Regions from separate parts of the Homo sapiens genome. Here regions 1 and 2 are each linked to region 3. Evidence: fine-mapped expression QTL. A gene starts in region 3. Each other region holds a variant in brackets. All regions are shown on one strand. Distances are from middle to middle. Region 1 overlaps SHANK2 (SH3 and multiple ankyrin repeat domains 2). Region 2 overlaps NADSYN1 (NAD synthetase 1). Region 3 holds the start of DHCR7-DT (DHCR7 divergent transcript).

Region 1 (8,178 bases), 770 kb after region 3:
TATCTAATTAGTTTCTGGGCCGGGAATCTGATAGACCCTTTAACCTTGCCAGAGAAGGTTACCGCTGAGGCTGGCGGAAATTTGGCAGCATCAAATGATGGGCTTGGACTTCTGAATTCTCCTCCAGTGCGAATCCTGAGCCGCGGAGAAACATCTCTGTGCAGGAGCTGTTTATTCAGGGGGTTTCCGCCGTCAGACTTTGCCAAGAGAAAAGGGACCCCACGCTGAGCAGCAGAGAGAGAACGGGGGACTTGGCAGAGCCGGTGCCGCTGTGTGCTTCAAGAGGCAGGACCCTCCCAGCAGGTGCCGGCAGCCCCAAGGCACAGATGCAGAGGCATCCCCGAGCAGCCAGTGTCCTCTGAGTCCTCCTGCAAGTCAGGGCACCTGTCAGCTGGGCCACCAGCACCCCAGAGCCAGTTGCCTTTTAAGTGGGTACTGGCCTGTGGTCTGAGCATTGACGGGGATGGTTCACACCCAGGGAGAGTGTGATTTACTAGGAAGAGTGTGGGAGTATCTCGGCCGCAGGACCTGCCTGCTTGCTTGCTGGTGCCCAATCTGAGGTGTGCCTGCATCCTGTTGAGAGTCCCCACAAGGAGGACGGTGCCTGCAGTTGGATGAGTCAGCCCACAATCTGCGAAAGATTGTTGAAAACACCCCCACTCCATATTAAAGCCTCATCCACCTTGAGCCTCACCAGGGAAAGAGAGAGAGGCTGGGGTGGCATGGCCAAGTGAACTGTGGAGCCCAGAGACATCCATGTCCTAACCCCTGGGGCCTGTGAGTGTGTGACTTCACCCGGCCAAGGGGAATGAAGCTTCAGAGGGGGACTTGTCAGCTAATCAGCTGGTGGTGGATTAGGAGATGGTCCTGGCGAATGCAGGTGGGCCCTGTGCCATCACAGGGATCCTCATCAGAGGGCAGGGGGTCAGAGGCAGAGAGTGGGGAGCTGGGACGATGGGAGCGGAGGCTGGAGTGATCTGAGGAATGATCATGGGTCAGGGAACGTGGTGGCCACTAGAAACCAGAGAACACAAGCAGCCCCTCCTCTGGAGCCTGGGTGGGGAGCCCGCCCTCCAACACCTCAGTCTTAGCCCAGTGAGACCTCGGACCCCCAGAACTGTAAGAGGCTAAATGTGTCTAGCTGCCAAGTTTGTGTTACGTTGTTACAGCCGTCACAGGACACTCACAGAGTGCTTGCAAGCATTCAATGCATAGACTGAAGAGGTTGAGAACCCGCTCTGACAGAGGCTGTTTTGGCCGACATTAGCTGTGAGTGTGTAACTCCCTGGGATGGGGTGCGATGGCCCCACGTTACAGATGGAGAAACCGAGGCTGCAGGAGTTCTGCTCCCTTCCCCAGGGCCAAGACATGCAGTAGAAAAGGACAGGAAATGCCGCCTCTCTCAGACTGTGCAGACTGCATGCTGCCTGCTCCACCGACCCCTGTCCCACCCGTCGGCCTCCGTGGGACCCCAAGTCATTTCCAGTCACAGTGATCACAGGGGTCTGGGAAGGGACTGTGCAGCCCCAAAGGCCACAGTCACCCTGGGCTCTGTGGATTTGGGAATGGATCACACAACTGTTGGCAGGTGGACGTCCAGGGTCCCGAGGGAGGGGCACCGGTTCTAGTTGTCACTCCATGGGCCAGAGGGCCTGGCTGGGGTGTGGCAGCGGGCAGCGGTGGCCTCTGTTGCTCAGGCCACAGACATCCTCATGATACCCCAAAATGCGCCAGACACCGTTCCAGGCCCTGGGGCGTATAGTCAGCACGACAGATGGCACCGGGCCTCCCAAGCCTCCCGTTCAGTGGAGGTGCCCTCTGTTCCTCGGCAGGACCCAGGCCCAGCCCTGACCCACTTCTCCCCAGCACAGGGGAATGGGACACAGCCCTTTGTACTGGTCATGGGGAGACAGCTGATGGCTGGAAGCCTCCGCTGCTGCCAGGCACAGAGGGACTGCCCCAGGCAGGTGCACACCCCAAAAGAGGGGGCCGAGGGTGCAGGGAGATCTCCCACCTCCCTGATGGTCCGGGGATAGGCCTGCCCTGCTCCTCAAAAGGGGGCTGGCTGGCTGCTGGTGGTGGGAACAGGCTCTGCAGTTGGCCTCGGGGGTTGGATGCCCAGCTCCGCCATTTGCCAGCTGTGTGACCTTGAGCTCCTCACTGGACCTTTCTGAGCCGCAGCTTCCTTGTTTGTAAAATGGGAAAGAAAATGGTGCCTCCCTCCACAGTGTGTTGTGTGAGAGAGAGAATGAGGGCAGGGGCTCCCCATGGGGCTTGGCATGGTGTGCGTACCCGGCCTGCCAGAGCCCAGCGTTGCGGTCAGCCGTGTTTTACTACCTGCATTTGCACGGATGACCCCGTGCCGTCACCTGTTACGGGCCTGGTGTCTTCTTCTTCCCAGTCATGTGAGGGCGGGGGAGGAAGGTTGTCCTAGCGAGCATGCTGAGATCCCCTGGCTAAGGAGAGTGAGTGTGTTGGAGCTTGGAGGTAACCTGGGGATATCTGGAGGATGTATGTCAAGGCAAATGAATACCTGTGCAGCCTGGACTTGGGGTCAGGGGCATGGACCAAACAGTTCGCAGTTAGAAAAATACCAGTTCTGGGCTGGGCGCAGTGGGTCATGCCTGTAATCCTAGCACTTCAGGAGGCCGAGGCGGGCGGATCACAAGGTCAGGAATTTGAGACCAACCTGGCCAACATGGTGAAACCCTGTCTCTACTAAAAATACAAAAATTAGCTGGGTGTGGTGGTGCACACCTATAGTCCCAGCTACTTGGGAGGCTGAGGCTGGAGAATCACTTGAACCCGGGAGGTGGAGGTTGCAGTGAGCTGAGATCACACCACTGCACTGCTCTCCAGCCTGGGTGATAGAGCAAGACTCCATCTCAAAAAAAAAAAAAAAAAAAAAAAGCCTGTTCTTAGCAGACTGGAAATGAGCAGGTCGAGAGGCAGGGAGAGGCAGGGAGAGGCAGGACAGATAACTCCAGCTTTAATAAAGAACAGGCAGGAGGCTGGGCGTGGTGGCTCATGCCTGGAATCCCAGCACCTTGGGAGGCTGAGGCATCAGGATTCCTTGAGCCCTGGAGTTTGAGACCAGCCTGGGCAACAAAGCGAGACCCCATCTCTACAAAAATTAGCTGGGCCTGGTGGCGCATGCCTGTATTCCCACCCAGGAGGCCGAGGCAGAAGAATTGCTTGAGCCCAGGAGGTGAAGGTTGCAGTGAGCCAAGATCGTGCCACTGCACTCCAGCCTGGGTGACAGAGTGAGACTCTGTTTCAAAAACAAACAAACAACAACACAACAAAAGAACAAGAAGGAAAATGAGAAGGAAATCAGGAAGTCCTGGAGAATGGGGAAGATTTAAAGTGAGAAACTGGCTGGGGCTGAAGACCTGGGAAAATTGGTGCAAGGGGTTGTCTTTTGTCTTTGGAGGGGGCCCCCTAACAAAATAAATGAACTGGACACCATGGGAAATGGCAGTGAGGATGCCAGTGGA[G/T]ATGGTGGAAGGGAACAGAGGGCTGGAACCTTCTGCAAAAAGAAGGAGCGAGCCTACAACTGGGACAAGCAGCTCGTTCTTAAGATGTGTCTTCCTCAGCGAGAAGTTTGCACACATCTGGGAAATGGGTACGCAAGGACCCTGGCTTTGGTGGTCGAGTGCAGAGCAGTGTGAGAGGGAGTGGGCATCTCGGGCTCAGGGGGAGCCTGGCTTCCGGAGCCCTCAACAGGGCTTCTGGTGGGACGTGCTGTGTTGGACCTGGTGCTCTGAGGGTTCCCTGCCTGCCCGCTTCTTGGAGGTCATCTCAGCAGTGGACGTGGTCATATTAATGGTGGACTTCCTTGGGTGGGTGCAATGAGCAGGGTTGTCCAGGGGCAACCAGCCTTACCTTTACCTCATTGGGAGACGCTTCAGCCCCCATGCTGTGGCCAAGGGTCCGGTCACAAAGACAGGGCATCAGTGGTGTCATGGAAGGTCAGAGGGAAGGCAGGGTTTCATTCGAGCGAGGCTAATTTTCAGAATCGTGGGTGGTGGCCCGGGTTCTAGGAACACTTAAAGGATAGAGGAGACTCGGCACCACGTGCTGAATCCAGGAGGAGGATGTTGGCCGCTCAGCTGGATGCATTGAATGACAAAGACTTTGCAACTGTGTGGCTTGTCTGGGGTGTCTGGAAGCCCAGTCTGTGGACAGGCTGGTCCTCAGGTCTAGCAGAGGGACCCATTAGCAGAGGCAGCGTCTGGCCTCAGACATCCACTCATCAGGTCCAGACCAGACCGTGGGCCTTGGCTGTATCTTCTGATCCACTCCGTTGCTAAGTTCCCCTCTGTACCTAAACTCTGTCTCCCTTTACTTCACTTGGCTTTTTAGAGATTTCTCAGCCTTGGTGTGTGTTGTCCCCAGCCCTGTGATGTACAAGTAATTGCCTGTATACGTGGGATTAGCCAGCTTGCTCAGGAAGTCAGTGTTGTGGTTAGTGGGAAATTCAGACCGGTTGAGTCCAAGGAAACCACTTTTCCTTAGTTCTGTTTTCTGAACCAAAGTTCATTTGAGATGAGGGGTTGTGACTAGATCTTCTCTGGACAGTTGAATATAGAGCAGGGCCCCCATCTGTGTCACTGGGGCTCATGAATCCTCCTTGCCAATGACTAGAGTCCTTGAAGGAATAAGGGCTGGGTCAGTGTTTCCCAACCCAGAATATAACTCGGAGACCTCTTAAGTTGTCAGGAAGCCATCCCAGTGTTTTGCCCGTATCTTCTAATTAATAACTACCCTGCCCCCTCACTCCAAGCTCCAAATATTCACATTATGTTCATTAGAAAGCATTTGGCTGCAAGTAATAAAAAACCTCACTCACAGTGGCTGAGACCACAATGGCGAGTCCAGAGGAGGGCACAGCTAGCATCCATTGCACGGGCAGTGACATCTCTGAAGGCCTCTTGGCCTCTCCCTCATGGTGGCAAGATGGCAGCCATAGCTCCAAGTATGATGTCCCCATAGCACGTCCTACTCAGGAACGTAAAGGAGGGGGTGCCAGGGAGCAGTTCCCCAACCCCCACTCCCTTTCCAAATAGTCCAGCCTTTCCCAGAGGTCCCAGCAGACCTCGGGTCCGCTTGGCCTTGGGTCTCCTTGGCCAAAACTATTCCATAGGGTCATGACCATCCATAACTGCAGGAAAGGCTGCAATAGCAAGTGTCTGGCTTTTCCAGTCGCTGCAGCAGGCAGCAAGCTGGGAAGAGTGCCAGAGTCTGTGACAGGAGCTGGGTGTGGTGGAGAAAGAAGACTTAGTCCCCTCCCTCTAAGCACACAGTGTCACGTGAGGGACAGCATTAAGGTCCTCTTGGAAGTGGTGGCTATTGCAGTGCGCTTTGAAGAATGAATAGGAGTTCAACTGATAGAGATAGCAGGTATAGAGTGTTGTAGGTGGGAGTAAAAGTGTGAACCACAGACCAGCACACACCTGCTGTGCCCAGGAGATGCCTTGTCTTCTGACACATTGCCAGTTCATTGAGATGGGAATCATAAAACACAGCCATAACCAGCATGGGGTGTGAACTGTAAACGTTTATCCAGATGTTCCTGCACCCATTTTTAGGTGTGGGGCCTTGCTTTGCCTTTGGCCTTGCTCACCCCACCGTGTCCTTCCTCCCTGGCATTACCCAGCCCAGCATTTGGTCCACCATTTCCAATTTCAAATTTTTTGATACAGAGCAGGATCTCCTGGCAAAATCTTCTCAGAGCATCCCAGGGTGCCCTCCCAGCAGCTCAGATACTGGCAGGACAGTAAATCACCAATTCCTTCTCCAGTTCTTTCTCCAGAACATGCTGCTAGGACCAACGCCTCCCCTGAGGGTTCTTTCCTTTCTCTCTGTCATTGTCTGGGTTGGGAGGGCTGTGAGCTGTCGGGGAACTGGCCCCCACCTGGCCAGGAATCAACAGTGCTTCAGTATCACTATCGTTCAGTAACCCACAGTGGTTCAGACAGCCTGGCTTTGCCTCCAGCCCTGTGTTCTGGTGCAAATCACTCAACCTCTCTGCTTTATTTGCTCCCCTGTAAAGTGAGCGTCATCACAGCTCCTGCCTCATACGGTCATTATGAGGATTCAATTAGTTAAACCCACAGAACACTTAGAACAACGCCTGGTGTGTGGAAGGTGCTCAAAGGCCGTAGCATAATAATTACACTAATTACTCTAATTATGAATTATTACTCATTAAGCCAGAATTCAGGTCTATCCCCACTTGGAGCCAACCAGAGCATAAAAACCTAGACAAAGTAAAGAGGTGTTTCTTTGTTTTCCAGAAAGTACTCCCCATGTGATCCTTCTGAACCTCTCAGGCATCTCACAGATGATCTCATTTCTAAAACGCGTTCTCCTTGCCTCTTTTCCAGAGCTCAGGTGTTACATCAAGCCAGGCACACCTGTACACAGTAATGTCAGCATGGCTTCTGCAGCAAGATTGAGACTTTTCTTAGTTTTTATTATACATAGTTATATGCCATGTACATGTATTATTTGTGTGGACTTAAATGTCGTTAGAATATTTAGAGCCTATCTTTAGAAACTGCAGCCCACAGGCCAAATCTGGCCCATTGCCTGTTTTTGTAAATAAAGTTTTATTGGAACACAGCCCCACCCATCATTTACATATTGTCATGGCTGCCTCTGTGCCACAACTAGCAGAGTGAGTAGTTGCAACAGGGACCACCCATCCACCCTCAAAGCCTGGAATGTTCACTCTCTGGGCCGTTGCCTGGTCTAGAACATTTGCAGAACCCCTTCCAAAGGACATCATTGGCTGGACATTGTGGCTCACGCCTCTAATCCCAACACTTTGGGAGGCCGAGGCAGGCCAATTACCTGAGGTCAGGAGTTCGAGACCAGCCTGGCCAACATGGCAAAACCCCGTCTGTACTAAAAATACAAAAAGTAGACAGGCCTGGTGGCGGGCTCCCATAATTACAGCTACTTGGGAGGCTGAGGTCAGAGAATCACTTGAACCTGGGAGTTGGAGGTTGCAGTGAGCCAAGATCATGCCAAGCTGGCAAGTAAAAAGAGCAAAACTCCGTCTCAAAAAAAAAAAAGGGGACATCATTAAAATACTTCCCATTACAATGTGTCAGCCTCTATCTTAGTTCAGCTGCATTGCAGTAATGGATGCCTGAGCCTGGGTAATTGATAAAGAAAAGAGGTTTCTTTGGCTCACAGTTCTGCAGGCTGCCCAGGAAGCATGGTGCCAGCATCTGCTTCTGGTGAGAGCTTCAGGAAGCTTCCACTCATGGCGGAAGGCTAAGGGGAGCTGGCATCACATGGCAAGAGAGGAGGAAAGAGAGAGAAGAGGAAAGTGCCAGACTCTGTTTAACAATCAGATCTTGTGGGAACTAGGAGTAAGAACTCTCTCAGCCCCGGGAGAATGGAACCAAGCCATTCATGAGGAATCCACTCCCATAACCCAAACAGCTCCCACCAGGCCCCACCAACAACATTGGGATCAAATTTCACCATGGGATTTGGAGGGGACAGATAGCCAAATTATATGAGCCTCCTACTTTTAACTGTTTTTACAACTGCCCCTCTGGTGACACCAGTCTCTTAATGAAGCATCAGCACTTGGAAGAGAAGCAAACTTTTCAGTGGCCCTAGTGAGTGGAGGGAGGTTGGTGGCCAGGGGTGGACGGCAGCAGTGGCCTTCTCCTCCGGCATGGGCCTGGCCTGGGTTTCTCATGGCCTCCCACTCAACAGCTCTGTGCCATCCAGGTTGGGCAGGTGATCCTGGTGGGGGGACCACGGGCTGCAGGTGGGCCCCCAGCCCTAGAATCAGCCTTCCCTACAAAGCCCAGGACATCAGGTGACTGTCACACTGAGTCTGGTTCCCGGGAGAGGAGGACATTTCTGGTTTTGTAGCTGTGGGGCCATCTACTCCCCACCCCCACCAGAGGGACTTGGGAACTTGCCTCACAAGGAGACCCCTGTGGCCTGTCCCATGGCCCGCCAGCATGGTCTTTGTGGGCGAGCTTTGAGACAGACAGATGGGGCAGGCTTGGCCTGTCATTTTAATTAACGAATGAAGGAAAAGTCATCAACAGTCCCTTCCTGCACTCACAGCAAAATGCCAGGCAGTTGTACTGTTCCCCTGATTTTTTTTTTTTTTTAAAGAACATTCAGTTCAGAGTCAAAGGC
Region 2 (8,178 bases), 56 kb before region 3:
AAATTTAAAATTCCAACTTTCTTTTGGCATTTTAAAACTACACATTCAATTCCCCTAATAATTATAGAGCTATCCAAATTATCTATTTTGTCCTGGCTGAATGTTGGTAGTTTGTGCTTTTTGAGGAGTTGGTCTGCTTCACATAAGCTGTTGAATTTCTATGTGTAGAGTTGCTTGCACCGTTTGCTCATTATCCGGTTCATGTCTGTGGGGTCTGTAGTGATATCCCCAAACTTGGTATCCATTCCTGAAGCTTATAGTTTGTATCCTTGTATCCTCTCTTTTTTTTCTTTGTTGGTCTAGCAAGAGGTTTGTTAATTTTACTGATTTTTTTTAAAGAACTAGATTTTTGTCTCATTTATTTTCTCTATTTTTTGTCTCTAATTTCACTGATTTCTGTTCTTATCTGGATTTTTTTCTTCTTCTGCTTATGTTGGGTTTGATATTTTGAATATATTTTTATAGCTTTGTATGTATTATGATTTATATTACATTTTAAGTATATTTTTATAGAGTTCCTAGTGATCTTTTATTGAATACCAGATAAAGAGTATAAAAAACTGAGAAAGGTTTTGAGTGATGTTACTTTCTTGCAGAGACCATTTGTTTTCCTTCTGCGAAACAGTTAGACAAGCAGCAGATCACATTGATCCAGTGAGGCAGTAAGATAAGAGGCCAGGCTTTATTCTTTGTGAAGGAGTCTCTATTTCTGGCCTGTACTTCTCCCAGTATATAGTCTTGAGGGGTTTCAATAGAAAGCCTTAAGTTTTTACCAAGCCCTTTCTTATTAATCCTAAAATTAAATATTTATTTTCCAGAGCTACAAAACCTCCATAATCTCTGTTTTGCTTTAAAGGCTCTTCATGGATGCTTTTTGCTTAGCTCCTTGTCCTCTTTCCCCAGGCAGTTTCATAATCTTCAAGGGAAGAGGAGCTGCTGCACACTGGACTCACTTCTCTGAGCTCTTCTTTTCCCTGGAAGCTTTGCCCTGCAAGCTCTGGCTGCCTTTGTCACCCTAAAGTCTGATTTTCGGAAGGAACTGCCAATGCCTCAGCTGCTTTCTGCTTGTGCTCTTGTTCTCTCTGTCGCTAACGAATGGGCAGAGGCCCCACGGGAGGAGAGTGGAGCGCTGGCACCTGATGCATTCATTTCCCTTCTCACCAGGATCCAGGCACCTCCTGTCCTGGACACCTGGGTTTCTCTCTAGTGCTTTCAACTGCTGTTTTGTGTTAATTTTTTCTGGCTTTCCTACTTGTTCTCAGTGATTCTGTAGCTCAAATATGAGCTGTTCCATCAGAACCAGAAGAGGAGTCGCAATACGTATTTGAAAAATACACGAATAAATTATCTGCAAATTAAAAATAATCAGCTCTCCAGGAGTAGCTTCTATGGTGGGTGATGGCGACTATCTGAGGCTGGTGTCACAGGGGTAAAAGAGTTTACCAAGAAACTTGTAGGTTTTAAAAAAAGGCAGATTTATTAAAGAAAGGAAGGAAGTACATTGCAAGAAGGCAATGGGCAGGCCAGGAGAAGAGGAGCTGACTGCAAGGAGACAAAGGCTTGCAGGGGATTTTACAGGATGGTTCCTGGGCCATGTGCTGAAGAGGGCTGCATACAATACCTACAATGCCAAGGTTGCAGTGAGCTAACTTGCATTTTTCTATCAGCTGAGGGTCTGGTGATACCTGGGCATGGGAAGATTGTGAGCTATATGCACAGGAGGGCTGTGTGTGCTGGACTGTGAAGAAATGCAGACTTGTAGCTTATCTGCTTTCTCTTTTTGCTTTCCCTTGGTCCTGCCACCCTGGCTCCTTTTCCCTGATTAGGACGCCACAGCTTCCATGTGTTTTGATTTGTTAGATCTGACATGGGCCAATGAATTGTTTTTTCTTTAACTATATACAATCCTATTTTTCCCCTCATATAAGCCAATCCTAATGGAATAGAATCATCCTTTTCAAAAGCTTTTTACCAGAGGTCTCCACACCACTCCCAAGTACAGCCTCCCATGCCTCACTCAGCTACAACCTGGCAAAAATCTCCAGCCCTGCAGAGACTGAGTGGTGCATTGAGTCCCTGATTGCTGTTTTCCAGAAGGATCCTGGAGAGGATGGTTACAACTGCTCTCTCCAAGACGGAGTTCCTAAGCTTCATGAACACAGAAGAGGCTGCCGTCACAAAGAAGCAGAAGGACCGCAGTGTCCTTGACTGCATGACGAAAAGACTGGATGTCAACAGTAACAGGCAGCTAGATTTCCAAGAATTTCTTAATTCAAAATTGGCAGCCTGGCTGTGCATTGCCATGACTCCCTCCTCAAGGCTATCCCACCCTACAAGCAGACCTGAGGGCCCCTTCGGCCTGGCCTCCAAAGCCACCCCCTTTCCTTCCAGCTTCCTGTCACCATCTCCTCCTCACAGCCCACACGTCCCCTGAGCCCAGCACACCTACCTCCTCTGGCAGGCCCCGCCTGCGGGTAGAAATAAAACAGTTTTCACTCGCATCGGTGTGAAGAGACCACCAAACAGGCTTTGTGTGAGCAACAAGGCTGTTTATTTCACCTGGGTGCAGGCGGGCTGAGTCTGAAAAGAGTCAGCGAAAGGAGATAGGGGTGGGGCCGTTTTATAAGATTTGGGTAGGTAAAGGAAAATTACAGTCAAAGGGGGGTTGTTCTCTGGCAGACAGGAGTGGAGGTCACAAGGTGCTCAGTAGGGGAGCTTTTGAGCCAGGATGAGCCAGGAGAAGGAATTTCACAAGATAGTGTCATCAGTTAAGGCAGGAACAGGCCATTTTCACTTCTTTTGTGGTGGAATGTCATCAGTTAAGGCAGGAACCGGCCATCTGGATGTGTACGTGCAGGTTACAGAGGACATGATGGCTTAGCTTGGGCTCAGAGGCCTGACAACGTCACATTTTTAAAACATGAAAAAAAAAAGCTTTTTATTAACTACTCTGCTTAATTCAACTCCTTACTTCATATGTAGAGTTGATATAGCTGAATGCCTGCTGGATAAGTCAATAAAGGAAACCCTGACACTGCCACTTTGCAATGATAAAATAACTCATCAAATTGAAGATTTAACTGCAAACATAAAAACTGAGTAAACACAGTCTCTTCACATACATTTGGACAAATCTACAGACATCGCTGAACTTCTGGTATTGCTCTAGCACCAGCCCCAGCTAATTATTGGAAAAGGGTTTCTTTATAAGTGAATGGTTGGCAACAAACCAAAGTGCTGTCATCTCATAAACCGGACACTGAAAAGATTTGCAAAACAAGTACAACAATGCCACTCTTCTCACTTAGATGTTTTGTTTTTAGAAAATTTATTTTTTTGTAAAAATATGCTATTTCATGTTAACATGCAATGGGCTTATTATTTTTAGTGACTTCCTAAAATAAATCTATTTTTAGATTTCTCAGTTTTAATTTCTCAGGTAGCAACTATCAACAGATAAAAGCCACATAAGCAAATGCTCTTAGGGGTTTTGAGACCAAAGTGTTTGAGAATCACTGTCCTAGAGTTTTAAAACATTGGAAAGGGGAGGGGAATGTGTACCCCTGTCATTAACAGTATCCAGCTGAGAGGGAGGCTCGGGCTGACTGACTCGGGGTTCTATTGGAACACAGCCAGGCCTGTCCATCATGTATTGTCTGAGGCTGCTTCCTGCTGTCATGGGAGAAACTTTTGGGCGGATGCTGCTGGGAGCCGGTCAGACTGGGCAGACTGGATGAGAACAGGAGGATGAGAATGAGCAAAGGCACCCACGAGGAGAACAGGAGGAAAACCCACGCGTTTGGGGGCGACTAGAAATGCGCAGTGAGCCTTGGGGTCCCCTGTGCTGCCCTCAGGCTGCGTTTGCCTTGAGTGAAATATTTTCTCCAAAAGGCAGAGGAGAGGACAAAGCCCCCTGTGCATCTCCATTCTCCACAGCATCCCCAGGATGGCAGGAGGAGGTCCCCGAGAACTGCACAAGCTGTGTTTGACCCAAGGGGACTTTTTCCTCTTGAGGAGGTTTGCTGGGTCATGTCAGTGATGAGGTTTAAGGACAGAGCCCAGGACCCTCAGCAGCCTGGATATGGCCAGAC[G/A]GAGCTGGAAGCTTCTCACTGGCCGAGCTCTGGTCCCTTCCCCAAAACTGAAGGGTCATTACCCTATCCTAATCTCAGCTCGACTCATGCCAGGAGGACTCAGTAGTAGACTGTCCTACCACTGGGGGACACACTATTGTGTAACTGAGGGACACTAGGCTGTATCTGGGTGGACACTGCCCTGTTACTAGGGGACACTAGTGAGTAACTGGGGACACTGCCCTGTACTGGGGAACACTATCCTATTATCCTGTTACTGGGGGACTCCAGCTTATAACTTGGGGACACTATAATGGGGGACATTGCCCTGCAATTGGGGGACATTATCCTGTTACTGGGGGACACTATCTAGTAACTGGGGATACTACCTTATAATGGGGGGACAATACTGTATAACTGGGAGACACTATGAGGGGACATTGCCCTGTAATTGGGGGACACAGCCCAGTAACTGGGGAGACATTGCCCTATAACTGATGGACGTCACCCTATAACTGTGGGGACTTACCCTATAACTGGGGAGACATTCACCTATAACTGGGGGACATCACCCTATAACTGGGGGGACATTCACCTGTAACTGTGGGGACATCACCCTATAACTGTGGGGACATCACCCTATAACTGTGGGGACATCACCCTATAACTGGGGGACATTACCCTGTAACTGGGAGACATTACCTCATAACTGGGGACACTATAATGGGGGAACATTGCCTTATAACTGGGGACACTACCCTGTAACTTGGGGATACACTATGCTATGACTGGGGGGACACTGCCCTGTAACTGACGGGATGCTATCCTGTAACCAGAAGATACTAACCTATGACTGAGGGACAGTATCCTGTAACTGGGGACACTGCCCTGTAACTGGGGGACACCACCCTATAACTTGAAGGTTGGGGACCAGGGTCTGGTGCCCCTGAGCTCAGTTCCTGCAGGTGGGAAGTTTTGGAGCCTCCGAGGGTAATTCCACAGGATGGGGCTGCCTTCAGGGTCCCAGCCTCACCTGATCATCTTTCGGGTGACACACTCCCCACCCCGTTGCCACACATCTGGGGTGCAGGAGGCAGCCAGAAGCCTCCAGCTCCCATCCAAGGCCTAAGGAGAATCTCAGGTATCCTGCTGGGTGCTCCCTGAGAAGGTGTGGGGTGCCGGCCACCCCAGTGCACTCAGACCTATCCGGGCAGGGGGCATCCACGATGTGACGTGGGTAACAGACTCTGGAGGAAGTGACGGAGAAGACAACAACGGTGGTGACCACTCCGCCTGACAGCACCTGCCGAGTGCCCCCCACTCTCTACTATCCCGACAGCACCTGCCGGGTGCCCCCCACTTTCTGCTATCCCGACAGCACCTGCTGAGTGCCCCCTACTTTCTACTATCCCAACAGCACCTGCTGAGTGCCCCCCACTTTCTACTATCCCAACAGCACCTGCCGAGTGCCCGCCACTTTCTACTATCCAGACAGCACCTGCCGAGTGCCCCCCACTCTCTACTATCCCGACAGCACCTGCCGAGTGCCCCCCACTTTCTACTATCCCAACAGCACCTGCCGAGTGCCCCCCCCCCACTTTCTACTATCCAGACAGCACCTGCCGAGTGCCCCCCACTCTCTACTATCCCGACAGCACCTGCCGAGTGCCCCCCACTTTCTACTATCCAGACAGCACCTGCCGAGTGCCCCCCACTCTCTATCACAACAGCACCTGCTGAGTGCCCCCCACTTTCTACTATCCCAACAGCACCTGCCGAGTGCCCCCCACTTTCTGCTATCCAGACAGCACCTGCTGAGTGTCCCCCACTCTCTACTATCCCGACAGTACCTGCCGAGTGCCCCCCACTTTCTGCTATCCAGAGAGCACCTGCCGAGTGCCCCCACTCTCTACTATCTCGACAGCACCTGCCGAGTGCTCCCCACTTTCTACTATCCAGACAGCACCTGCCGAGTGCCCCCCACTTTCTACTATCCAGACAGCACCTGCCGAGTGTCCCCCACTTTCTGCTATCCCGACAGCACCTCCTGGGAAATTCACCCTCAGCTGTGGTCTGTGTCCCAGCCCGGGCCCTGGGTTTGGTGTGGGGCTCTAGGTGAGGCTGGGAAGCAGGAGTGTCCCAGGCAGAGGGGCCAGACATGGGGGAGAGAAAGAGCGGACACCCGGTGGGCAGCACAGATCCCAAACCCACTCCACTCCCCTGGAGGCTCTGGCCTGTGCACCCATCTTCGTCTCATCTTCACCCTGCAAGGATGGGAGGCTGAGACTCCCTGGGGCAACCCGGGAGAGAGGGTTCCAGGACCAAGGGGAGCTCTGGAGAGGACAGAAAAGCCGCTCCTCACCCCATTCCATAAAGAGACAAAGGTGCCCAGAATGGCATGAAGATCAGCAGGAAGGGGGACCCACAGTGCCACGCCCCTGCCCCACACCTGGCCCCATGCCTAGATGGGGTGGTTCTCCCACAGGACAGGAGTAAGGCCGACTGGTCCCCAGACTCCCAGGAAGAAAGCTCTGCAGGGACCATCTCCCCAGAACCTTCTGGAACCCAGGACAGGAAGGTGTGTGTGGGTGGGAGAGAAGGTCTTCTCTCCTTCATTTTCTGCTCATGACACCCCTCCCTTCCCGGGAGCTACTGTTCTTGTTCCTGCAGCAAAGATGCCACACGGGGCGGCGGTTGGAACCCTCCTACCCAGGCGGCTTCCTTCGGAGAATGCCAGACTTCGCGGGGAAGCGCACGCTGGCGGGAGGTCAAAATCATGTGCATTGGATTCCAGCCTCTTTTTAAGCCCAGGCTTTATTCCAGCCTCTTTTTGAGGAATTTGACTGAAAAGTTCCCTCCCTCTCGGCTGATGCGCCGTCCCATCCTGGGCTCCTAGTGTAGGGCTCCTACCCTTGGCTCCAGCAATGCTGATGATGAGGTGCTGGGGTCCCCGAGGACAGGAGGCCTCCAGGAAGGAACCGGCCTCAGTCCACGCCGTCCAGGGACTGTGGCTCTGCCCTCTCGAGCTGTAGCACCTGGAAAGAGAGGCCTGTGACACCACAGCCCCGCAAAGACGGACTGTGGGGCTGTTGAAACACTGGCACGCACCAAAAGCGGGTCACAAGTCCCAGAGGTGAAAAAGTAAATTACCAGAGTCCCCACCAGATGCTGGGCGTGTGTGCTGGAAAAGCCTGGAGGGGCGGGTCCAGATCACGCATAGCTGTCACTGCAGATGACAGCAGCGTCTCCACCTTTACCTGCAGCTGTCTCTGATGCTCCCACATGCGTCACTCTTTTGGCTGCATAGTGTCTGAACCCCCTTCCTGATCTGGGGGAGCCCGCCCCTGAGTACATCTTGGTGGGAGCCAAGCCCCCACCTCCCACTACAGAGGCCAGAGCTGGGGCAGCTCCCTCTCCTGCCCTGGGTGGCCAGATGACAGGGCCCATCACCCGAGGCTTGGCCACTCCACTGCCTGGTGACCCAGGGACACTGGGACTCAGGGATGGCAGAGCAGATTGGCATCCAGCCCAGGCTGGGTGTGGCGTGTGGGCTCCGTCCAGCCACAGCAGGGGATATAGGGCAGCAGCCACCTGGCCTGAGTCCCAGCTTTCCAGACCCTGTGACCCCTGCCCTCCCTTCCACCCTCTAAGTCACTCTTTGAGCAAGTTCCTTTCCACGGAAATCAGCCAGATACAGTATCTCTTCCTTACAACCATGCAGCCCCAAACGTCTTCTAGTCCCAAATGTTCAGCATTCCTCAACCTTGGCACCACCAACACGTGGAACAAAGAATTCTCTGCTGGGTGTGGGGTTGGGAGGGGCCCATCCTGCACACAGTAGGACATTCAGCAGCATCCCTGGGCTCCACCCACGGGATGCTGGGAGCACAGACCCCAGCCCAGTCATGATAACCAAAATCATCTCCAGTCATCGCCTAATGTCTCCTCGGGGGGTCAACGGTCCCAGATGTAGAACCCCTGCCACTGATCCACCCTCGTTTTACAGGCCACCTGCTCAGAGATGCTGTCACCGATCATGAGGTATAAAGCGGCATCTTGTGGCCTCTAGCTCAGCACAGGCGGGTTTTCCTCATGTCCTTAAGGAAGA
Region 3 (8,178 bases):
AAGGTGGCGGCCATCTGTCTGAGGCTGGGAATCTGTCTCCAGCCAAGGCCAGAGACAGGCACGTCCAAGGAGGAGGGGTTGGGGCAGGAGCGCTATGCTGAAGGGATTGGCTAAACATACATATTCAACAGGTAACAGGAGGAGCTATGAATATTCATGAAGGTGGTCCTGACACATGCCCTCTTATTGAGCAAAGCATGTAATATATGACCCATGTTCACTTTGGGGTGGAGACTTAACATTTACACATCTTACAATTAGGGCCTTTATGGCAAAACGTCTTTTCAGGACACAAAGGCATGCAGGTGCATCATCTCTCTCTATTAACGGGTCAGCTGGTCGGCATGGTCAGCTGGTCGGTGGTCTCTTATTAGGAGAAAGTCACTGAAATCAGTCTCTTGTCCAATCACAGCTGCTATGGCTGGTGAAACAGAGTCAGTTAGTTGGCACCTAGTGGAGCTGCAATTGTTTTAATATTCCCTATCCCAAGGCTAGTGTGTGTTTGGCTAATAGAGAAACAGAAAGCCTTGTGGCTCTTAGAATATAGTTTATTCTCTAAGTGTGGGTTGCCTGACTTACCCTCGCCTAGCATGGCTTTGGGTCCTGTTTATAATTTGGTATCTTATTGCCACAGAGTCCGTTCTGTCAGTCTTACGATCTCTGTTTTAACATGAATGCCGGCCAGTTGTGGTGTCCAAACTCTGAAACAGGGGGCTATTACCAGGCGCATCTGACCTCCCATCCCATCATGTCTGGGAATTCAGTGTTGAGGTTTTTCTGGTGTCCCCTTGGTCAGGAGAAGGTCCCTTTGGTCAATGGGGGGCTTAGGATTTTATTTTTACCTTATGTACATATACCCGTTTTCACATTTTGAATCACTTTTTTTCCTGTCTATAAAGTAGTGCTTGTTCATGACAATTTGGAAACTCCACAAAAGCACCAGAATGTTATACATGCTAACTTATTTAATCCTCACAGTAGTTTTCATGCTTCTGAAATCCACACGATCTGCTCAAATTATCTCCTGCCAACAATGGCTGATGCCAGGCCTGGGCAGAGAAGGGGAGGATCCTTGAACATCTGGTTGTCCCAGAAAATAAGTAAGTACTCAAAGGATGGTAGATACATGTCATATGAAAAAAGAAGCCAATTTGAAGGGGCTCCCGTTAGCTAAATACAGGACAATACAGTAAGGATCATAACTCGGTCAGCTAAATCCATTAGGGCATACTGATAAAAAATAAATCAAAGAGGAAATCCCTACAGAAGAATGCTTGCTAATAAATAATTTATTAATAAATGTTGAGGGAATGATAAAATTAGAAAATTAACACTTTGTCCCAAGAAATAAGGGATTCAGGCAAGATTCCTCATTAAATGCTAGTTCACTGGGTGAAAGGTCATTTGGGAACAGCATATTTACAGTCTCAAAGTATCACTGCACCAATTACTCATTAATAACAAAAGGAAAAATGGAGACTTCTGGCAGAAACCACGGAGCCCCACTATCAATCATGGAGCACAGTGATATGTTGTCTTAAAAAAGAAAATTTTAGGACTCTTGAAATTTATTAGGTCAACTTGGGCAACAGAGCAAGATCCTGTCTTTAAATAAATAAATAAAAATAAATAAATTTATTATGTCAAGAGGGAAGTTAAGTCCTAGAAACTGGGTCACATAGCATGTTTGTAATTTTGTCTTTTAGATTATAGGCTGTTTTTCTTTATCATTCATGTTTTATAAATGACTAGGAGAGACCACAGACCAGGCCTGCTCCCCTTTTAATTACTGATCTTTATTATAGATTGTCTCTTATTATCCCGTACTTAGACCAGACTCCTACATCTTCAGTGTAAAATGTTAAATATACCTTCCACCTAAAAAAGACCACCTCAGCTGGTCAGATTATAACTTTATGCATAAAAAGATGTTAAAATTCTGTTAAACTTCCCTAAAATTTGTCTACATAAATGATCCCAAACATCTACAGTTCAAAATACTGATTTCCATTCTTTAAAATCTGTGCTTCCCAGGCAGCCTGTCCTCAAACTTTATACACTTAAATAAACTCTCTTTAAGCTAAATTCTGACCTGTTTGGTTATTTCAGGTTGACAGCCTTCTAACAAGATAAAACATGCTCTATGTAGTATATTATCCTGCCAAAAAAAGTGCATAGCCTGAATGCACAGTGTGGCTCCCTGATTAGATCCTGGGGTTTAAAAAAGGGCTGTAGGGCAGAGCTTCACACCTGTAGTCCCAGCACTGTAGGAGGCCACAGTGGGTGGATCGCTTGAGCCCAGGAGTTCGAGACCAGCTTGGGGAACATAGTGAGACCCCCCCCCCCACCCATCTCTACCAAAAAAAAAATAGCGTGTGGTGGTGTGCTCTTGTAGTCCCAGCTACTCAGGAGGGTGAGGGAAGAGAATCGCTTGAGCCCAGCAGTTCAAGGCTGCAGTGAGCTGTGATCGTGCCACTACACTCCAGCCTGTGTGACAGAGACCCCCGTCTTAACAAAGCAAAACAAAACAACAATAACAAAAGGGCTGTAAAGGGCATTATTGGGACAACCGCGGGAAACTGGAGATGGAAAATAGATAACAGCATTGAACTGATGTGGTCATTGTATTTTGGTAATATAGGAGGTTCTTGTTCTTAAGGAGTTGGATACCGAAGTATTTGGGAGGGGGGTATCACGGTATCTGCAGCTAATGGTGGGGGCTGAGTGGGGAGGAAAAAAGAAAAATACACATATATAAACACAGAGGGAGAGAAATGAAACGTGGCCAGCTGCTCACCCCTGCTGAACCTAGGAATCTGCGTGCTCACTTTACGTTCAACTTGTTTGTATGCTGAACATTTTTCAAAACAAAAAGGTGCAGGGAAAAAAGAAAACATGATGTCTCTCTGAGGGCCACAGAGACGTGGCAACCAGATCGCTCTGACAGTAAGGCCTGTTACCCGAGCTGTTGGGTGTGGGGTCAGCAGACACCTTCAGCTGCCCCCTCCTCCAGGGCTGCCTCGCCCCAGGTCATGCCCTCGCAACGTGGCCCGTGCGTCCGGCTCGCACTGTGGCTCAGCTTCTCCCTTTGCCCAGTCCTGCTGCTCCCTCCCCTCCCGTCCTCGCACAGGTGTGCCCCCCTAATAAGCAGGCCACCCAGACTCCATCTCGGGTCACTTTGGCGGTCTCCCAGCGGCGAGCCTTCCCTGACACCCATGTGTTTACCTGATCGTTTATGGAGGATCCTCTTCGCCCCGGGACGTGAGCCCTAGGACCAAGAACTGTGTCTGTTTTGCTCCTTGCGGTGCACCGGCGCCTGGACATACGCTCCATCAATGTGCGTCGCGAGCCGCTGAAGCCCCATTTGCCGAGGGGGAAACTGAGGCACGATGATCCAGGTGATGAGCCTGGCGCGTTCTCCGCGCGGCCCACGTGGCCACTCCGCCACGCCCCACCCCCAGCTGGTCAGCTGGGATCCCGAAGAAGCGCCAGAGGCTGCGCCCACCCACTAGGGCCCGGGCGGGCCGGTGGGGCGGCAGGGCGGGGCCTGGGCCGTCAATCTCGAGTCCGGCCGCTGCCGAATGGCGGGCGCGGTGGGCCCGGAGTCAGCTCAGGCTCCTCGACCAATCACGGGGCGCGGAGCCGCCGGGCGTGCAGGGTCCGCCTCCGATTGGCAGGCAATCGCTGACATCATCCGGGGGCGGGCGCCCCTGCCCTGCGGGTGACTCCGACCCCTGGCTAGAGGGTAGGCGGCGTGGAGCAGCGCGCGCAAGCGAGGCCAGGGGAAGGTGGGCGCAGGTGAGGGGCCGAGGTGTGCGCAGGTGAGTGGCCAAGGTGTGCGCAGGTGAGGCCAGGGGAAGGTGTGCGCAGTGGGGGGCGCTTGCCCAGGTGAGCAGGTGCCCACTCACAGGGCGAGGGTGGGGTCAGGGGTAGGGGGCGTGCGCGCAGGTGGGGAGAGGGTCCAGCTCACAGGCGAGGGGCCGCTGGGGCTCCGGGGAGGCGGGGCGGAGGCGTGGATAGTCCCCCTCCCCCACGAGCCGGCGTCTGAGGGATGCTCTGTCCCCGCGCTGTCTGGAGCTTCCCCGGGCGAAGGCTGCCTGGCTCCGGGGTCGGCTCCTGGCCCCATGCCGCGCTCCGCGGCGGCTCTTTCTCCTGCCCCACCTGTTGTTCGCCTCCCTCTTTGTCAGTGCTGAGCCAGGCACAGCAGCTTTGCGATGGGACTGGCTTGTCCGCCGTCCTCCCTGACATGCGGCTGTTGAAGCCCTGAGCACTGGACCTTCTGCCTCTTGCTTGACTCCTACTGTGGGCCTTGAGCTTCTGCCCTCTCCTGAAATGTCAGCTGCCTGCGGTCTTATTCATTTTTGTGTTCCTTGCAGGACTTTAGCCGGTTGAGAAGGATCAAGCAGGCATTTGGAGCACAGGTGTCTAGAAACTTTTAAGGGGCCGGTTCAAGAAGGAAAAGTTCCCTTCTGCTGTGAAACTATTTGGCAAGAGGCTGGAGGTAAGTGTATCTCAGTGCCCTGGATCGTGGGCGCAGGCTATGGCTTCACAGCGTTGAAAGTACAGACAGACTGGTCCACCAGCTCTCGAGTGCCAACGACTGTCTGTGCCTCTTATGAGTAAAATACAACATACCAGGGCACCTCCCCTTTGTCTGTTCCCAGCCGTCTATTGGGAAGGATGTTACTTAGATGTTTATTGCACAACTCAATGCTTGTGGCTAAAGAGCTGACTCCTGGGTGAATGAACTCTGTAATAAGCTAAAAGTACTTCTTTGGTCTTGTTTTAATCCCTTTTGACAACATTCTCCCAGTGGCTTTTTCACACTTTAGTTCTGAGGTTACACATCCCCTGACCCTTTTGCAATTTCCCAGTGTTTTACATAATTGATAATGTTGGTACCAGGCATTGTCCCCTTGTAGCTTATCCATGGCTTGGGGCAAGACGAATGCCACCCCATTCTACTTAGCCTTCCTGTAAGGCAAGTGTGCATGTGGGTGGTCTGGATTAACACCAGTCAGTGTGGGAACTAGGGATCGGAGGGAGTGGGGGCACTGAGCTGGTAAGTTTTGGCTGGGAAGAAACTAAGCTTGTATCTTACCTTGATGAGAGCCTGGGGGAGAGGAACTGTCTAAAGCAAGCCAGCTTGTCCAGGTGGCTGTGATCTTGAGATCAGACTCACTAGCGTGTCAGCTTTTCTCAGAAGTAGTTTTCTTTCATCCACTTTGATTTTACAGATATAAGGAGAGTGACTGGCACTCGCCAGGCTCTGTATTCAGTATTTGGGGCCGGAGAGAGACACGGTCTCTTCCTATCAAGAACTCTTCGTCTTGTTTTGTGCATCATAGGAACTGCATAAACTAACTTGTGTAAATTGAATGAAGTGCGGGTACTGAAGTTCTCACACTGCATAAGGAAAATGTCTTTCATCGTTGAAATTTTTTAAATGTGTGTGAATTTTTATTAAAGTAATTCATGCACACATTTTTTTAAAAATCAGTGTTAAAAGGCTTCAGAAGAAATACTCTCTACCACATCCCACATCCGACAGTCTTGCTTGCCAGCAGCAAACACTTTTCATTCTTTCAGCTACTTTTGTGTTGTTGTTTGTACCTACTTGTTTCTAAGTAATTTCCTTTTAGTACCCCTAACTTTGCAAATTCCCTTCTGTGCATACAATAGTCAATAAATAGTCAGAGTATACATTGTTATGACAAAATTACCATTATTCACTGTTGAGCCAAGTAAGGTCCTATAATAATGGCTTGGTTTCTTTTTTTCCTTCCTTATATGACTTTTTATTTTTCCTGGAGTTAACAGTTGCCTTCCTTTTTTTTTTTTTTTTTTTTTCATTTGGTAAGGTTTCTATGCATCTCTCATTCATTTTTTTCTGGATGCTCTAACCGAGCTGTCACATATATCAATAATTTTCCTACACATTCAGATGCAACAAAATTCATCATTTTCATTTCCTCTCTTTCCTAGCCATTCATCTTGTACCAATGTGGACTGGTTTCTGGTTAGTCCTGCTGCATAGCTGTCCTCTTGGGACTTGCCCCTGCCCTTTTGTGGACATGGCTTCAGCAGCTCTCTTGGGTCTCCAGTTTCCTGGATCCTATGTTGTTGTCCTTGAGTAATAGTTCACATAGGAGTAGAATTCTAGGTTGCAAAAAGTTTTCCTCAAAATTTTGAAGTTTTTCATCATTGTCTTCTAGAATCCAGCTTGCTGTTGAGAAATCTAAGCCTACTGTGATTTTTACTCCTGTTTTTTCTCTAAAAGCTTTCAAGAGCATCTTTTAAAAAATCTCAGATATTTTAAAGCTTCACAGTTATGAACTTGTTCTGGAAGTGGGGATGTCACTGCTTCCCCCAAATTATAACCATGTAGAGCAGCTGTGGGTACCTAGAGACATTCTGTGTTCTCTTCCCCTTTTTTTTGAAGGGTGATTATTGATGGTCCTACATGGGCCACTGTTCTAGGCCCTGGTAGTAGAACAATGAAGAGGACACACAATTCCTGCCCTTGGGAAGCTTACATTCTAGTGAGGGGAGACAGACAATACACACACACAAATGAATACTTCTAGGCGATGGGGAGAGTTACTAAGAAAATAAAGTACCCAGTGGAGGGCCTTGGCAGGGAAGCTGGGGAGCAGCTGCTTCAGATTGGCTGAGAGGGAAGATCTCCCCAGGAGGGGACATTTTACATGAGCCCTGAACAAGGACACCTGCAAACGTGCTCTAAGCAGAGGAAGTCAGTGCCACAGACAATTTAAACTGTGTTCAAGGATGAGTGAAGACCCCTGTGTTCCTGGAGCCAAAGGAGAATAGGGGAGAGTGGTGTGTAGGAGGGAGGCAGGAGCCAGCTTGTGCTGTAAGAGGGGGGGCATTCTGCCATGTTTGGAGAATGAACTGAGACTAGCAAGAGCAGCCATAGCAAGGTCACGTGGGAGGTGATTGCAGGGTCCAAGGAAGAGAGTCTAAGACAAGATGATCTCTTCCCTGCCTGGAATCTGCTGTCAGGAACAAGGTACCGGGAAGATGTGCACAGGAGGCCAGCCCTGCCAGGCCCAGGAGCAGTGGTGGATGCAACAGGGAAAGGTGGTGTCTGTTATTTGAGGGATAATGTAAGCAAGGTTCTCTTTCTTGCAGGGCCCAATGGCTGCAAAATCGCAACCCAACATTCCCAAAGCCAAGAGTCTAGATGGCGTCACCAATGACAGAACCGCATCTCAAGGGCAGTGGGGCCGTGCCTGGTAAGGATCTTGCCTGTTCTCCCAGCTAGAAAGTAAAGTGTGGTCTCAGAGCTTTCCAGCCTTTGGAATTGTATGGACCCAAAGGAATGAAGGACCTTTTTAAAAAAGATTTTTTTTTTTTTGTCAAGACTAATGAAAGGTAAACAGTTTTCCACTTTATAAAGTAAGGAATTATAAAAAGAAACTAGAAATCATGGTCAGTCAACAACTTAGAAAAAAAGATAAAGGCTTAAAGGGCAGCTGGGGCCTTCCCACCATCTGGGGGTATGACCTATTGTCACAGCTCCCATTTCGCCATAGAACCATGGGGACTTCGTGCAGGGTGAGTATCCTCTCCGACCTGGAACTGGGGAAACCACTGGCCTTGGTGGTTGTGAAAGACCTACCTCCGCTCATATTCTGAGCTCTGGGCCTTCCATGGGGGCCACAGATAGTGCCACCAGTTAATCAACTACAGTAGAGCAGGCATGTTGAGTGGCTTCCCTGGCCGCAAGGAGGGCCCGTGCTAGGAGCTAATGCCTTCTGTCATGGGGTACTGGTGGGTTTGAGCAACAGTTCTCCCACACAGAGCCTCTTAGGGTCCTGGTGGGGCCCAGGGCAGATGGGCCCCAGTGTGACTGCCTGCATCCGTCCTCGCAGGGAGGTGGACTGGTTTTCACTGGCGAGCGTCATCTTCCTACTGCTGTTCGCCCCCTTCATCGTCTACTACTTCATCATGGCTTGTGACCAGTACAGCTGCGCCCTGACTGGCCCTGTGGTGGACATCGTCACCGGACATGCTCGGCTCTCGGACATCTGGGCCAAGACTCCACCTATAACGAGGAAAGCCGCCCAGCTCTATACCTTGTGGGTCACCTTCCAGGTCAGCAGCCCCTGCCCTGGGGTTGGGACACAGCAGGTGGGGAGCGTGCCCTCCTGCTGG

What was found.
Region 1: its variant is fine-mapped to the expression of DHCR7-DT in testis (GTEx, PIP 0.96).
Region 2: its variant is fine-mapped to the expression of DHCR7-DT in whole blood (TOPMed, PIP above 0.99).

The regions. Positions count from the first base shown.
Region 1 is chr11:70,673,265-70,681,442 of GRCh38, reverse strand. The region is part of intron 15 of SHANK2 (SH3 and multiple ankyrin repeat domains 2); the gene reads left to right. Among named protein-coding and RNA genes, the nearest start is that of SHANK2-AS1, 51 kb to the right of the region's middle. RefSeq lists enhancers at 1-295, 296-1,059, 7,774-8,178. The variant G/T (reference allele first, on the strand shown) is at 3,498.
Region 2 is chr11:71,500,229-71,508,406 of GRCh38, reverse strand. It overlaps NADSYN1 (NAD synthetase 1), which reads right to left. Exons shown (of 21, transcript NM_018161.5): 21 at 6,591-7,105. The coding sequence ends at 7,055. It also overlaps the pseudogene S100A11P3. Among named protein-coding and RNA genes, the nearest start is that of KRTAP5-7, 23 kb to the left of the region's middle. RefSeq lists enhancers at 2,446-3,036, 6,977-7,664. The variant G/A (reference allele first, on the strand shown) is at 4,092.
Region 3 is chr11:71,443,933-71,452,110 of GRCh38, reverse strand. It overlaps DHCR7-DT (DHCR7 divergent transcript), which reads right to left and starts at 3,583. Exons shown (of 2, transcript NR_186309.1): 1 at 3,226-3,583; 2 at 1-421. It overlaps DHCR7 (7-dehydrocholesterol reductase), which reads left to right and starts at 3,718. Exons shown (of 9, transcript NM_001360.3): 1 at 3,718-3,821; 2 at 4,377-4,501; 3 at 7,153-7,256; 4 at 7,896-8,118. The coding sequence starts at 7,159. RefSeq lists enhancers at 1-69, 190-239, 3,185-3,686 and a silencer at 3,412-4,051.